4 linked regions of the Homo sapiens genome follow. The protein of the gene in region 3 interacts with the protein of the main gene of each other region in a pairwise test. Each region holds a gene or a part of one and is shown on either strand. Other genes may lie near its edges.

What was found. Proteins that work in one complex are often made in the same cells at the same time.
Region 1: the proteins of NDUFS1 (region 3) and THAP3 interact in binary tests that used the Homo sapiens proteins (3 or more experiments, as listed by UniProt).
Region 2: the proteins of NDUFS1 (region 3) and BOD1 interact in binary tests that used the Homo sapiens proteins (3 or more experiments, as listed by UniProt).
Region 4: the proteins of NDUFS1 (region 3) and PCMT1 interact in binary tests that used the Homo sapiens proteins (3 or more experiments, as listed by UniProt).

What each region holds. Positions count from the first base shown.
Region 1 is NC_000001.11:6,630,965-6,634,062, reverse strand, and holds the end of THAP3 (THAP domain-containing protein 3), read right to left. Parts: intron 1,694-3,098; coding exon of another isoform or gene 1,673-1,693; coding exon 1,568-1,672; intron 1,268-1,567; coding exon 986-1,267; 3' UTR 501-985; downstream 1-500. UniProt on the Homo sapiens protein: Component of a THAP1/THAP3-HCFC1-OGT complex that is required for the regulation of the transcriptional activity of RRM1.
Region 2 is NC_000005.10:173,610,151-173,613,650, forward strand, and holds part of BOD1 (biorientation of chromosomes in cell division protein 1), read right to left. Parts: intron 3,106-3,500; coding exon 2,981-3,105; exon of another isoform or gene 2,977-2,980; intron 1-2,976. UniProt on the Homo sapiens protein: Required for proper chromosome biorientation through the detection or correction of syntelic attachments in mitotic spindles.
Region 3 is NC_000002.12:206,117,945-206,121,444, forward strand, and holds part of NDUFS1 (NADH-ubiquinone oxidoreductase 75 kDa subunit, mitochondrial isoform 1 precursor), read right to left. Parts: 3' UTR 1-3,500.
Region 4 is NC_000006.12:149,791,241-149,794,740, forward strand, and holds part of PCMT1 (protein-L-isoaspartate(D-aspartate) O-methyltransferase), read left to right. Parts: intron 1-2,308; coding exon 2,309-2,429; intron 2,430-3,500. UniProt on the Homo sapiens protein: Initiates the repair of damaged proteins by catalyzing methyl esterification of L-isoaspartyl and D-aspartyl residues produced by spontaneous isomerization and racemization of L-aspartyl and L-asparaginyl residues in aging peptides and proteins.

The DNA.
Region 1 (3,098 bases), on a different chromosome or scaffold from region 3:
CACGTGAAGCTGGGGTTCCATTTTCTACATTAAACAACATTGCCTGAGAAATAAATAGACCCCAAGTTAGGAAATCAGGCTAGAACTTTTTTCTTTAATTCACTAAAGCTATAAATTAGACAAAATAGGAAGTCAGTTTTTTTTTTCAGACTGAGTCTCGCTCTGTCACCCAGTGACAATACTAGAGGGCAGTGGTGTGATCTCGGCTCACTGCAACCTCCACCTCCCGGGTTCAGCTGATCCTCCTGTCTCAGCCTCCCAGGTAGCTGGGACTACAGGTGTGTGCCACCACGCCTGGCTAATTTGTGTCTTTTTTAGTAGACATGGGATTTCACCATGTTGGCCAGGCTGGTCTTGAACTCCTGACCTCAAGTGATCTCCCCACCTCGGCCTCTCAAAGTGCTGGGATTACAGGCATGAGCCACTGCGCCCGGCCACGGAAGTCAGTCTTCTTAGAAGGAATCACGGCACTAGAGAAAATGATGATGGGAGCGACACCGTATAGAAAGACACTTTATTACACTGCCCACTCACACCAGGCCGGGACAGGAGTCACTCCTTAGAACCCCGAGCGGCTGTCCAGGCTGATGGAGGAGGGGACCACTCACCCGCCACAGAGCCAGCCCCCTCACATGGCTTCCTCCCTGAGGAGCATCTCCCACACTGGGGCTTCCAACGATCTTTGCTCTGCGTGTGCTGAAAGGACAGCGTCCAGAATCAGCCTCAGCCTGGACTTCTGTTACCATGGGAGGATAAGCTTGTCATGCTCACAGATGTGCACTCCTAGTGCCACGCCTCTAAACGTCCCCCAGACGGCATTGGGGCTCTCGCCGGGGAGCTTGGCTACTGTCTCGATCCCCGGCCAAGCAGGCCTCATGGCCAACTTTCTCAGTGTCCACAGCAGACAAAAATGTCCACAGCCAGAGCTCCAAAGCTCTGCCGGCCCTGGTGCCACTGCCACCTCTGCGTCCGGAGCCTGTGGGGCTCAGCTCTGCTGCTCTGGCCCAAGTCTGGCCTGGAGTCCCTGGTGCCCTTTGCAAGCACGGAGGCGGCTGGACATCCTTCGCATCACCAGCCTCTGGGCCTGCAAGCGCTTCCGGAGCTTTTCATTTTCCTTCAGAGTGAGGAAGAGTTTTTTCTTCAGGGAATCTAAGTCCAAAAGGGCATAGCTGTGATCAGATGGCTGCTTGTTGGGGGTCCTTCTCAGGCCTGCAGGGCCAGTCGGCCGGCCAACAGCCTCTGTTGCTTGCGGCCTCCGTGGCGAGACCTGAGGACAGGGGAGTGAGAGCCTAGAGCTGCATCACCAGCAGGAAGGCGGGCCATGGTGAGCAGGCCACCAGACACGCACACAGCACAACCCCAGGGCAGCTAGACACTCCGGGCTGCTCCCCCAAAATCCAGATGTGCCCACACCATGGTGGAGAATTTGACTGGGGAGCTCTGAAACCCAGGCTGCACACCCTGCCTCGGCCACACAGGTCTCATGGTGGGTGCTCACTGGTTTCCATTTTGTTTGGAGCAAGTCATCTTGTGTCCAACCACAGACCACCTTTGCACTCAGTCTTACCTGTTTTACGTGGCCTTCGGCATTTGGGGGCAACTGAAGCTCTTCAAGTGCAGTGTCCATGTTTCTCCCAGGACTGTCCTCTCCGGCCCCCGCCTCAGGGAGGACCTGGGAACGGCAGGGTGAAGTCTGCACTACAGCCCTGCACATGCAGGGCCCTCCTGCAGCTGCTACTTGTCCCTCTAGGGGAGTGGCAACAGCCAGGGACCAGCTCCAGGGTCTGTGCCCCTCCACAGCCAGCTTCTCCCTAGCACACACCCTGGAACTGAACTTTTTTTTTTTTTTGAGACAGTCTCGCTCTGTCACTTAGGCTGGAGTGCAGTGGTGCAATCTCGGCTCACTGCAACCTCCACCCCCAGGGTTCAGGTGATTCTCGTGCCTCAGCCTCCTGAGTAGCTAGAATTACAAGCATGTGCCACCACGCCTGGCTAAATTTTTTTTTTTTTTTTTTTGAGACGGAATCTAACTCTGTCACCCAGGCTGGAGTGCAGTGGCATGATCTCGGCTCACTGCAACCTCTGCCTCCCGGGTTCAACCAATTCTGCCTCAGCCTCCTGAGTAGCTGGGACTACAGGCACATGCCACTACACCTGGCTAATTTTTTTTTTTCTTGAGATGGAGTTTCACTCTTTCACCCAGGCTGGAGTGAAGTGGTGCGATCTCAGCTCACTGCAACCTCCGCCCCCTGGGTTCAAGTGATTCTCCTCCAGAGTAGCTGGGATTATAGGCATCCACCACCATGCCCAGCTAAATTTTTGTATTTTTAGTAGAGACGGGGTTTCGCCAGGCTGGTCTCGAACTCCTGACCTCAGGCAATCCACCTGCCGCAGCCTGCCAAAGTGCTAGGATTACAGGTGTGAGCCACCAGGCCCAGCCGAATTTTTGTATTTTTAGTAGAGATGGAGTTTCACCATGTTGGCCAGGCTGGTTTCGAACTCCTAACCTCAGGTGATCCGCCTGCCTCGGCCTCCCAAAGTGCTGGGAATACAGACGCAAGCCACTGCGCCCAGCCCGGCTAATTTTTATATTTTTAGTAGAGATGGGGTTTTTACTATGTTGGCCAGGCTGGTCTCAAACTCCTAGCCTCAAGACATCCACCCGCCTCAGCCTCCCAAACTGCTGGGATTATAAGCGTGAGCCACCTCGCCCGGCCCTGGAACTGAACTTTAAGAAATCAGGCACGGCCAGGTGCGGTGGCTCCCGCCTATAATTCCAGCACTTTGTGGGGCCAAGGCAGGAGAATCCCCTGAATCCAAGAGTTTGAGACCAGACTGGGCAAGATAGCAAGACCCCCATTTCTAAAAAAAAAAAAAAAAAAAATTTTTAATTAGCTGGGCATGGTAGCACATGCTTGTGGTCCCAGCCACTTGGGAGGCTCAGGTGGGAGGATGGCTTGATCCTGGGAGGTTGAGGCTGCTGCGAGCCATGACTGCACCACTGTACAGAGCCTGAGCAACAGAGTGAGACCCTGTCTCAAAAACAAAGAAAAAGGTTGGGTGCAGTGACTCACATCTATACTCCCAGCACTTTGGGA
Region 2 (3,500 bases), on a different chromosome or scaffold from region 3:
AACAAATCATATTTGGACAGTCTGGAAAATAGCCCGTAAGGTTCAAAGTGAAGTGTTCTTCTCAAAGGACTGAAATATTCCAATACCATCACAAGCATGTGGGCAGGTTTTACTTATTTTCCCGTAGACTTGAGACTTCAGAGGCCATTTAAGCCTTCGGGTAAAAATAGGCTGGGCAGCAAGTGGGCAAATGGTCTGTCAGGGTACAGCAAAGGAAAGACATGAGTAAATGTACATCATGACAAAGAAGATAAGAAACAGGCTGTGAACTGGGAAAGATGATTAGTGTGTAAAGTGCTCCCTGGATTCAATGGTAACTAACAGCTTATCGACAGGAAGCCTAGATGTAAATACACCACCACTAGAGCACTGAAGGGCACATTTTCAGGTAGACCAGGCATTAGACAGTATCGGCCCTTAGTGATGAGCATCGTTAAATACAGCAAAGTTAGCATCCGGCTATGGGATGCTAACAAAGGAAAGCCACCTCTCCTCAGTCACAAGCCAATACCTTTCCAACTTTACCAAACCACTTCCTGAGTCGGATTCACAGGGTCCTTTACCAGATGTAAAAGCTTGATATTATCAACTAAATGCCTGTGTCCCCCAGACTTCCTATGTTGAAATCTAATCCTTAATGTGATGGCCTTTGGAGGTAGGGCCTTTGGGAGGCGATCGGGTCATGGGGGCAGAGCCTCCGCGAATGCAATTTATGCCCTTACAAAAGGGACCCCAGGAAGTTAGCGAGCTCTCTTTCCACCACATGAGAAGAACAAGCAGTTGGCAGTCTGCTGCCTGCAAGAAGGCCTTCCCCTGAACCTGACCATGCTGGCATCTTGGTCTTGGACTTCTAGCCTCCAGAATGGTGAGAAGTAAATTTCCATTGTTTACAAGCCACCTAGTCTACGGCGCCTTGTTAAAGCATCCCCAACTGACCAAAACCCCTGATCAGGGGAAACAAACTACCAAGGGAGTGCAGCTCACTTTCCTGGAGATTCTTAAACTTTTGAGGAAAACATAAAATCTTGTCAGGAGCCCAATGTACAAGATGGAAAAAACAAATATTGTACAGTTACAAGAGTTATTCGTCATAATTCAGTGCAATAGCACAGGCTAATTTCCTGTTAAACCCTCTAGGCTGTGGCACTGGGTTACAGCATCTGGGCCAGAACAGCCAGGCCAGTGAGCCAATGCTCTGAAGGCCTGCAGTGTCCACCTGGGGAGAGCACCTGGGGGCAAGCAGAAAGTCTGCGTTTCGAAACTCCAGTAGATTTTGCCTCAAATTCAAAATGCTAGCAAGAATTGTGGAGAAATGTCCCAGTATTAAAGCCAAGTTCATGTTTTCAGGTTAAACACATTCTAAGTCAAATCAAAAAGCAGGGAAAAAAAAAAAAACAACAACTTCACAGAGGTGGTAAAAACTATGCAGAGAGGAAATGATTAGTATAAAAGTCAGGAATATGGAAAACTTCCGAAAGGAGGAAAGTACATCCGGAGCTAGGCTGTTTCGGGGGTGTGAGTCCATTTCTCGATCTGGGTGATCAAGGGATGTTCTAATTATCTGTTTCACTGAACTTCTGTGCACTTTTCCGTATTACAATTCCTACTAAAGAAATGCAAGAGGAAGCGCCACATGCATACCTCTAGAATGACATCCATGCTCATTACAGAAATCAAAGCAATGTTAACAGCCTTCATACAATCATGGCAACTTTCCAAATATTTCAGAATGTTCAGTGTTTTGATTTACTCAAGACAGGGTAAACACAAGTGACTTTAGCTGTGAAACAGGCTTTTCATGAGGATGAGTGATATATGTAAAGACCAGTGCCAGACATGTAATAAAGAGTTGCTCAGTAAGGGGCAGCTACTGTCCCCTTCTTTCTGAAAGAGCCCGGTGCCACCAGTCTGTTCTCTGGAGAAAGGGAAAGGCACTCGGTACTGACTCCAGAATGACAAGGCACTGGGCATCTTCTGCTATCAGGCTTCTTCCCAGCATTCAGCCATATTGGAAGTACTAGCTTGTTAGTAAAACACTTTTAAAAACTTTAGAAATCTTAAAATCGCTGCATATTCACAGGAAGTTGTGAAGAAGAGTCCAGGGAGTTCCACACGCACCCTTCACCCAGCCAGCTCTAATGTCAGCACCTTGCGTAACTAGTGCAATATCAAAACCAGGAAAATGACACTGGTCCAATCCAGACCTTATTTAGACTTCAGTTACACTTGCACTTATTTGTGTGTGTAGCTCCGTGCGACTTTACCATACGAGCTGTTGCACGTGAGCACAGCACAATTCAGTGACACTTAACTGCACCATTGCAAGCTCCCCCTTGTGCTACCACTTGCAAGTCACACTCACCCCCTCCTCCCATCCGTAACCCCAGGCAATCACTAATGTGTTCTCCCATTTCTGTACCCTCCTCCACCTCCACTTTTGTGCGTCACTCAGATAAGCTATCAATAGCACCTTTATTAACTAAGGTTCAGTTTGTTACTGTGAAGTACGATACTTTATTAAGACTATGCCTTCCTGAAAGCTGTCACCATTACACTTTAGAGGTGGCAGTCCTGGTGGACTCAAAGAATTTATTTAGTTCACATTCACCTGTGAGAATAAAGATCCAACTCCTCTTGCCCAAGATCCAAACCCTGATATCTTGGTATAAAACTCACATATATGTTTGGACAACACTGAAACTTCAAAGAGCAGGGAAAATGTCTCACGATTTGGAATGCCTTTTGATGCACCCAGTAGAGATGCACACAGGAGGCCTTCACAGGCTGCAGAAACTGGAATTTCAACTGAGTACTTTGCTTCCTTTAACCTTAATTATAACAAAAGAGCAGACTGCTGCAACTCCTAAGTGATACTTGATATAAAGTCCCATCAACCTTGACTAAACAGAGACCTCAACCTTCTTGTGCATCACACTTGTGATGACTGCCTTTTCAAAAGCTTTAAATTCTGCTTACTTACTGAACCACACTCTGCCTCAGACCATTTCGCAACTGGTTTTTGTTCATCGTAGGATTCCATTCCTGCTTGTCCAGATGTGTTGACACAAAATTATCCACTTTCTGCCTCAGGTTTTGGTAAGCTGGCTAAAATGTTAAAAAGAGGAGGCAAGGTCAGAAGTTATATGCACCAAAGTTTTGAACTTAGTCTCTCAGAACACTGCTTTTCACAGAAACGTTATTAAGTCTAAATACACTTCCACTGTGCATGAAGATCACCATGCAATGTGGCAGTCAGGAATTAATGGTTAACACAAGTGCCCACCTGATGGTGGGTGGGCACAATGCCAGGCGCTTTACTTATATTATTCCATTTGCTTTTAAGTAACTCTACATGCAGCAGGCCTGACATCAACCCACAGCCTGGACCCACACCTGGGCAGCCTGCAGCCAAGCCACCAGCTGAAGCCTTCCTAGCTCAGCTGAACTTTGGTAGACCTGCCGCCCCATGAACATGTGAACAAGTGCTGGTTATAAGCTGC
Region 3 (3,500 bases):
GTGCCAATACTGTAAATTAATCACCAGTCTCAGATCATATATTTGCCATTTCCAACATATGCTTTTAGTCCAGTCTAATCACCAGTCTCAGACTATACATTGCCATTTTCAACATATGCTTTTAGTGAGTTATTTAAAAATATTAAGATATCAGATGTTTTGAGTATCAGCAATAGGTAAGTCAATCTCTAAACATTTTCAGTAGTGAAAAACACAAAAAACACTTTAAGCAGAGGGTATTTGGTTTTGAGATCCTTGTTCTCTTAAAATCTGTGATCTGAAATCTAGTCAGTTTTCTCATTAACATCCTTGTCCCTTGGGATAAATTAAATCAGCAAACTAAAGTGCTATGTAACTATTAAAATATTTTAAAATATTGGTTATTTAAAACTTATTAGGGGCCGGGTACAGTGGCTCATGCCTGTAATCCCAGCACTTTGGGAGGCTGAGGCAGGTGGATCACTTGAACTCAGGAGTTTAAGACCAGCCTGGGTAACATGGCGAAACCTCGTCTCTACAAAAAATACAAAAATTAGCCAGGTGTGGTGGCGTGTGCCTGTAGTCCCAGCCACTTGGGAGACTGAAGTGGGAGGATGGCTTGAGCCCAGGAGATGGAGGTTGCAGTGTGCTGAGATCATGCCATGCATTGCACTCCAGTCTGGGTAACAGAGCCAGAATCTTATTAGGGAATTCTGACATCTTCATCTTTTTATAAAAGATGGCCAGGCTGGGTGCGCTGGCTCACATCTGGAATCCCAGCACTTTGGGAGGCTGAGGCGGGTGAATCACCTGAGGTCAGGGGTTCAAGACCAGCCTGACCAATATGGTGAAACCTCATCTCTACTAAAAATACAAAAATTGACTGGGCACGGATAGCTCACGCCTGTAATCCCAGCACTCTGGGAGGTTGAGGCGGGTGGATCACCTGAGGTCAGGAGTTTGAGACCATCCTGCCCAACATGGTGAAACCCCGCCTCTACTAAAAACACAAAAATTAGCTGGGCGTGGTGGTGTGCTCCTGTAGTCCCAGCTACTCAGGAGGCTGAGGCAGGAGGATCGCTTGAACCCAGGAGGTGGAGGTTGCAGTGAGCTGAGATTGCGCCACTGCACTCCAGACTGGCAATACAGTGAGACTCAATCTAAGATAAAACAAAGAAACAAAAAGGAATGCACTTCTTAATAAGCTGGAGATTATTTTAGGCATGGCTTTCCCTCATAGTCTATGAAATTTTCCTACAATGATCATCCTCAGTTAGCACATGGGGCATTTAGTATATGTCAGGAAACAGGCCTAAGGTTTTTACAAGCTTTCTGATGTAATCATCAAAACAATTCTATGAGGCTGGAAGTAGGTACAATTTTACAATTTTTATCCTCATTTTACAGATGAAGAAATACTCTTAAAGAAAATGTTAATGTCAACAACAAACAATAAATTGGTACTGGGTATTGTCAAATATATTTTTTAATTTTTACTTTTTTTCAGACAGAGTCTCACTCTGTCACCCAGGCTGGAGTGCAACGGTGCAATCTTGACTCACTGCAACCTCCGTCTCCTGGGTTTAAGTGATTCTCCTGCCTCAGCCTCCTGAGTGAGTAGCTGGGATTACAGGCATATGCCACCATGGCTGGCTAATTTTGTATTTTTAGTAGAGACAGAGTTTCACCATGTCGGACAGGCTGGTCTCGAAAACTCCTGACCTCAGGTGATCCGCCTGCCTCGGCCTCCCAAAGTGCTGGGATTACAGGCTTGAGCTACTGTGCCAGGCCAAGTATATTTTTAATTAATGTATTCATTATAATACAATTTACTACAAATTTGAGGGGGGAGGCTTTCCATATGGAATTCAAGATATTTTTGGATATATATTCAACTTTTTTTTTTAAGAGTTGGGGGTCTTGTTATGTTGCTGATATGGTTTGGATGGCTGTCACTTCCAAATCTCATGTTGAAATGTAACCCCCAATGCTGGAGGTAGGGCCTCGTGGGAGGTATAGAATCATGGGGCAAATCCTTCATGAATGGCTTGGCACCATCACCTTGGTGATGAGTGAGATCTTAGTTCATGTGAAATTTGGTTGTTTAGAGTCTGGGACCTCCTCCTCTCTCTTGCTCCCTCTCTCACCATGTGATATGCTCGCTCCCATTTTGCCTTCTACCATGATTGTAAGCTTCCTGAGGCCCTCATCAGAAGCAGCTGCTGGTGCCATGCTTTGTGTACAGCCTGCAGAAACTGTAAGCCAATTAAATCTCTCTTTTGCAAGAATTACCCAATCTCAGATATTCCTTTACAGTAATGCAAACAGATTAAAACAGATTAGTACTGACAGTGGGGCACTGCTATACATATTGGAAAATGTAGAAACAGCTTTGGAACTGGGTAACAGGCAGAGGTTGGAAGAATCTGGAGGGCTCAGAAGACAGAAAGATGAGGGAAAGTTTGGAACTTAGAGACTAGTTAAGTGGTTGTGACCAAAATGCTGATAGACATATGGTGAAGTCCAGAGTGATGAGGTCTCAGATGGAAATGAGGAAGTTATTGGGAACAGGAATAAAGGTACATCTATGTCATGCTTTAGCAAATAGCTTGGGTGCATTGTGTCCAGGCCCTAGGAATCTGTGGAAGTTTGAACTTAAGAGTGATGACTTAGGGTATCAGGGTATCTGGCAGAAGAAATTTCTAAGCAGCAAAGCATTCAAGATGTGGCCTGGCTGATGCTAGCAGCCTACAATCAGATATGGAAGCAAAGAAATAACTTAAAGTTGGAACATATTTAAAAGGGAAGCAGAGCGTAGAAGTTTGGAAAATTCACAGACTAGTCATGTGGCAGAGAAGGAAAAAGCACTTTGAGGAGAGGAATACAAGCAGGCTGCAGGAATACAGTTGTCCATGCTGGACTCAACTCATTTGCTCAAGCAATCCTTGTGCCTCAGCCTCCCAAGTAGCTGGGGCTATAGCTTGTGCCATCATGCTCAGCTATTCACCTTACATTGCTGTCCAAAATGTTTTCATTTGAGGCAACCTGGGATAGTAAAAGTACTTCTAATTAAACACTCCTGCCATTAGTATCTAGCTGTGTAGCCATAAATAAGTTATTTGATATTTCTTGAGTCTCAATTAATACCTACTATTAGCAGAGATTTTGTGAAGAATAGTCTTAATGTATTTAAAGCTTTAATGGCACTTATTTAGAAGGTCCTCAGGAAATGGTATTATTATTCCAAGGTCTTTCTAGATTGCCTTATTCACCTAAAGAGACTTGATCTTGAGCCTTTGTAGATTTTCTCATTGGTGATTCCTTCACTGCTTAGAATGTCATGATTCCACCAGACAGGTTACTCTCATCTACGTGTATTTTTCTTACATCTTTTTCAGTCTATTTTTCTCTAGCAATTATCTTCAATGTTTATGCTTACAATAACCTTAGTATTTGGCATTACGACACTAATATGTGCCCATGAGACAGACGGAGCACTACTTATCCCAGAGGAGGTATTA
Region 4 (3,500 bases), on a different chromosome or scaffold from region 3:
AGAATGAGCCTGGTTTCTAAACATTCCTGCAGATTTACCAGGATGAAGGTAAAACTTCTGCATTAGAAAAAGTGCTCTTAGAAAAATAATGCCTTGTTATACTTCTGCCTTTTCTCATCAGAGTCTTATCTGGTCAATGGCTATCCAGAGTATTAACTGGGGACCCACTAATATATGTTGGAGTAAAGGTTGATCATTGCTTAGATCATCACATCAGTTTGATTTGAGAAATATCGTGCCTGGAGGACAGATTGGAATATTCTGATCTAGTTAAATTGGGAGTTGTGGATCCACCTTGGACTAGAATCCATGTAACTTGCTATAAATGTATAATCAGCAGACTTACTAGAATGTAAGCTCCAGGGAGTTGGAAATTTTGTCTGCTCTTTTTTATCATGATGGTATCCTAAACATCTAAAACAATGCCTGGCACATAATAAGGACTCATATTTTCTCAGATGTTTTGCTCATTTTGTAGAGGTTAAGTCCTCATTAATGGATATCAGTGATTTTTTTTAAGGTTAGAAATGCCATTTAATAAATGACTCATTCTCTATACTTGACATGTTTATAGTTTTAGAGGATGTATTCATTTTAAAAAATCATTTGGTTTCTGAGTTGTTTTTCATAAAATGGCATTAATGTTTTTCACACATTTACCATGTGTGAAAGTACTTTGTGTTTTAAGCACTAGAGCCTGTGTTCTAAGTGCTACCCCATTTTTATGATGGGGTTTATGCCTTTTTCCTCCCCATTTTGTACTGAGGAACCTGATTCATACAAGGAATGATAGGCCGGGTGTGGTGGCTCACGCCTGTAATCCCAGCACTTTGGGAGGCCGAGGCAGGTGGATCACCTGAGGTCTGGAGTTCGAGACCAGCCTGGCCAACATGGTGAAACCCCGTCTCCACTAAAAATACAAAAATTAGCTGGGTGTGGTGGCACACGCCTGTAATCCCAGCTATTTGGGAGGCTGAGGCAGGAGAATTGCTTGAGCCCGGGAGACAGAGGTTGCAGTGAGCTGAGATCACGCCACTGTACTCCAGCCTGGCCAACAAAGCGAGACTTTATCTCAAAAAAAAAAGAAGGAACGGTTAACTTGCCAAGGTATGTATGTATGTAAGTGATGACACTTAGACAAGAACCCAGATAGTTTGACTTCAAAGCCTTTATGTGTTAATTTTTTAAATTTTTATATTTTTTCTTGAAACATTTATACTTAATATTTTAATTTACAAATAAATATGCAAAGAAGGGATTTTTGTTGTTGTTGCTTTTTGTTTGTTTTCTGAGACAGGGTCTCAGTCTGTCATCCAGGCTGGAGTGCAGTGGCACGATCTCAACTCACTGCAGCCTCTGCCTCCCAGGCTCAAGTGATCCTCACACCACATCAGCCTCCTAAGTAGCTGGGACTTAGGAGGCACATGCTACCACACCTGGCTAGTTTTTGTATTCTTTTGTAGAGATGGGGTTTTGCCATGTTGCTCAGGCTGGTCTCAAACTCCTGGGCTCAAGCAGTCTACCTGCCTCTGCCTCCCAAAGTGCTGGGATTATAGGTGTGAGCCACTGTATATATTTTCATGTTTTCTACTAAAAGCAGTAGAAACAAGTGTAGAAATTCCTTCCCATCAGGCGGGAGGCAGGGTGTGTGGTGGCTCAGTCCTGTAATCCCAGCACTCTGGGAGGCCAAGGCGGGCAGATCACGAGGTCAGGAATTTGAGACCAGCCTGACCAACGTGGTGAAACCCTGTCTCTACTAAAAATACAAAAAAATTAGCTGGGCATGGTGGCGGGGGCCTGTAGTCCCAGCTACTCAGGAGGCTGAGGCAGGAGAATTGCTTGAACCTGGGAGGCAGAGGTTGCAGTGAGCTGAGATCGTGCCACTGTACTCCAGCCTGGGTGACAGAGCGAGACTCTCTCTCAAAAAAAAAAAAAAAGAAATTCCTCCCTGTCAAATTCTTTATGTAACATTTTAATATTTAAAGTTATACTTTAGATGGAATTTAAATAAAAAATTATTGTACTACTATTAAATATTGGTAATTTTCTTCAAAGTTCTAGATTTAATCTAAGAAAGATATAATTTTTCTTAGTATTACAAGTTTTATTCAATGAGAGTGATAGTTGAGAAAGTTGTATATATGGTAAATAATTTATGATAAACTGAGTGTTTAGCAATCTATAGAAGCCTTAAGCTATTTTTGTTTTCTCTTTGTAGAATATGACTTTCGATAAGGAAAAACTTCAATAATACTTTAGAAAAACAAATTTAGCCCAATGAGCTACTGAATTGTTTTCTCTTTTCCAGGTTGGATGTACTGGAAAAGTCATAGGAATTGATCACATTAAAGAGCTAGTAGATGACTCAGTAAATAATGTCAGGAAGGACGATCCAACACTTCTGTCTTCAGGGAGAGTACAGCTTGTTGGTAAGTATCAGAAAACTTTAAAAATTTCTTCAGAGGATTTTTATTTTCAGAAGATCCAATGCAAGCTAAATAATACTCAGAGGTAATTATTGTATTTTTTTTTACAATCACTTTTAAGTACTAAAAAATAAAAACGATTATTTTTGCTCACCTAGTGTGTATTTTGCAGCCATCTCTTTGTGAGTTTAATTTTGTATTTTCCTATTAACCTCTGAGATTGAATTTTTTGTAATGTGTCTGACCATTAGGATTTTGTCTTTTGTGAAGTACCTGTTCAGATATTGGATTGCTTGTATTTTTGACTTACAGGGCTTCTAGCCCTTTGTCTATATATATAAATACATTTCTTCTCCCATCTGAGGTGTGCCTTTTCATCTTATTGGTACCCTTTTGATAATAGAAATTCTTAATTTTAATGTAGTCAGACTTACCAATTTTTTTCAGTGCTTTCTGTGTCCTTTTTAAGGATACTCTGAGACCATGAAGATATGTCTCTTATTATTTCTTAGAACCTTTATCATTTTTAGCTTTTCATGTTTAGGTTTTTGATCTTCCTGATGTTGGTTTTTGTGTATGTGTGAGGTAAAGGTGCAGTTATATGTTTTTGTGTATGAATATCCAGTTGTATTCCCCAGACACACTCAGTTTTGTTTAAAAGATAAAATATTGGCCAGGAGCGGTGGCTCACACCTGTAATCCCAGCACTTTGGGAGGCTGAGGTGGGCAGATCATGAGGTCAAGAGTTTGAGACCAGCCTGACCAACATGGTGAAACTCCGTCTCTACTAAAAATACAAAAATAAGCTGGGCGTGGTGGCGCACGCCTGTAGTCCTAGCTACTCGGGAGGCTGAGGCAGGAGAATCGCTTGAACCCGAGAGGTGGAGGTTGCAGTAAGCTGAGATCGCACCACTGAACTACAGTCTGGCGACAGAGCTAGAGTCCGTCTCAAAAAAACAAATAAAATAAAATAAAGGCCCGGGCAGCTCTAGTAGCCACAGCCATCCCCTAGAGGGATCTGGCTGAGGAGGAAGTGGAGGTGTTGCTTGCCTTGGCCTTTGCCCTGATCCTGTG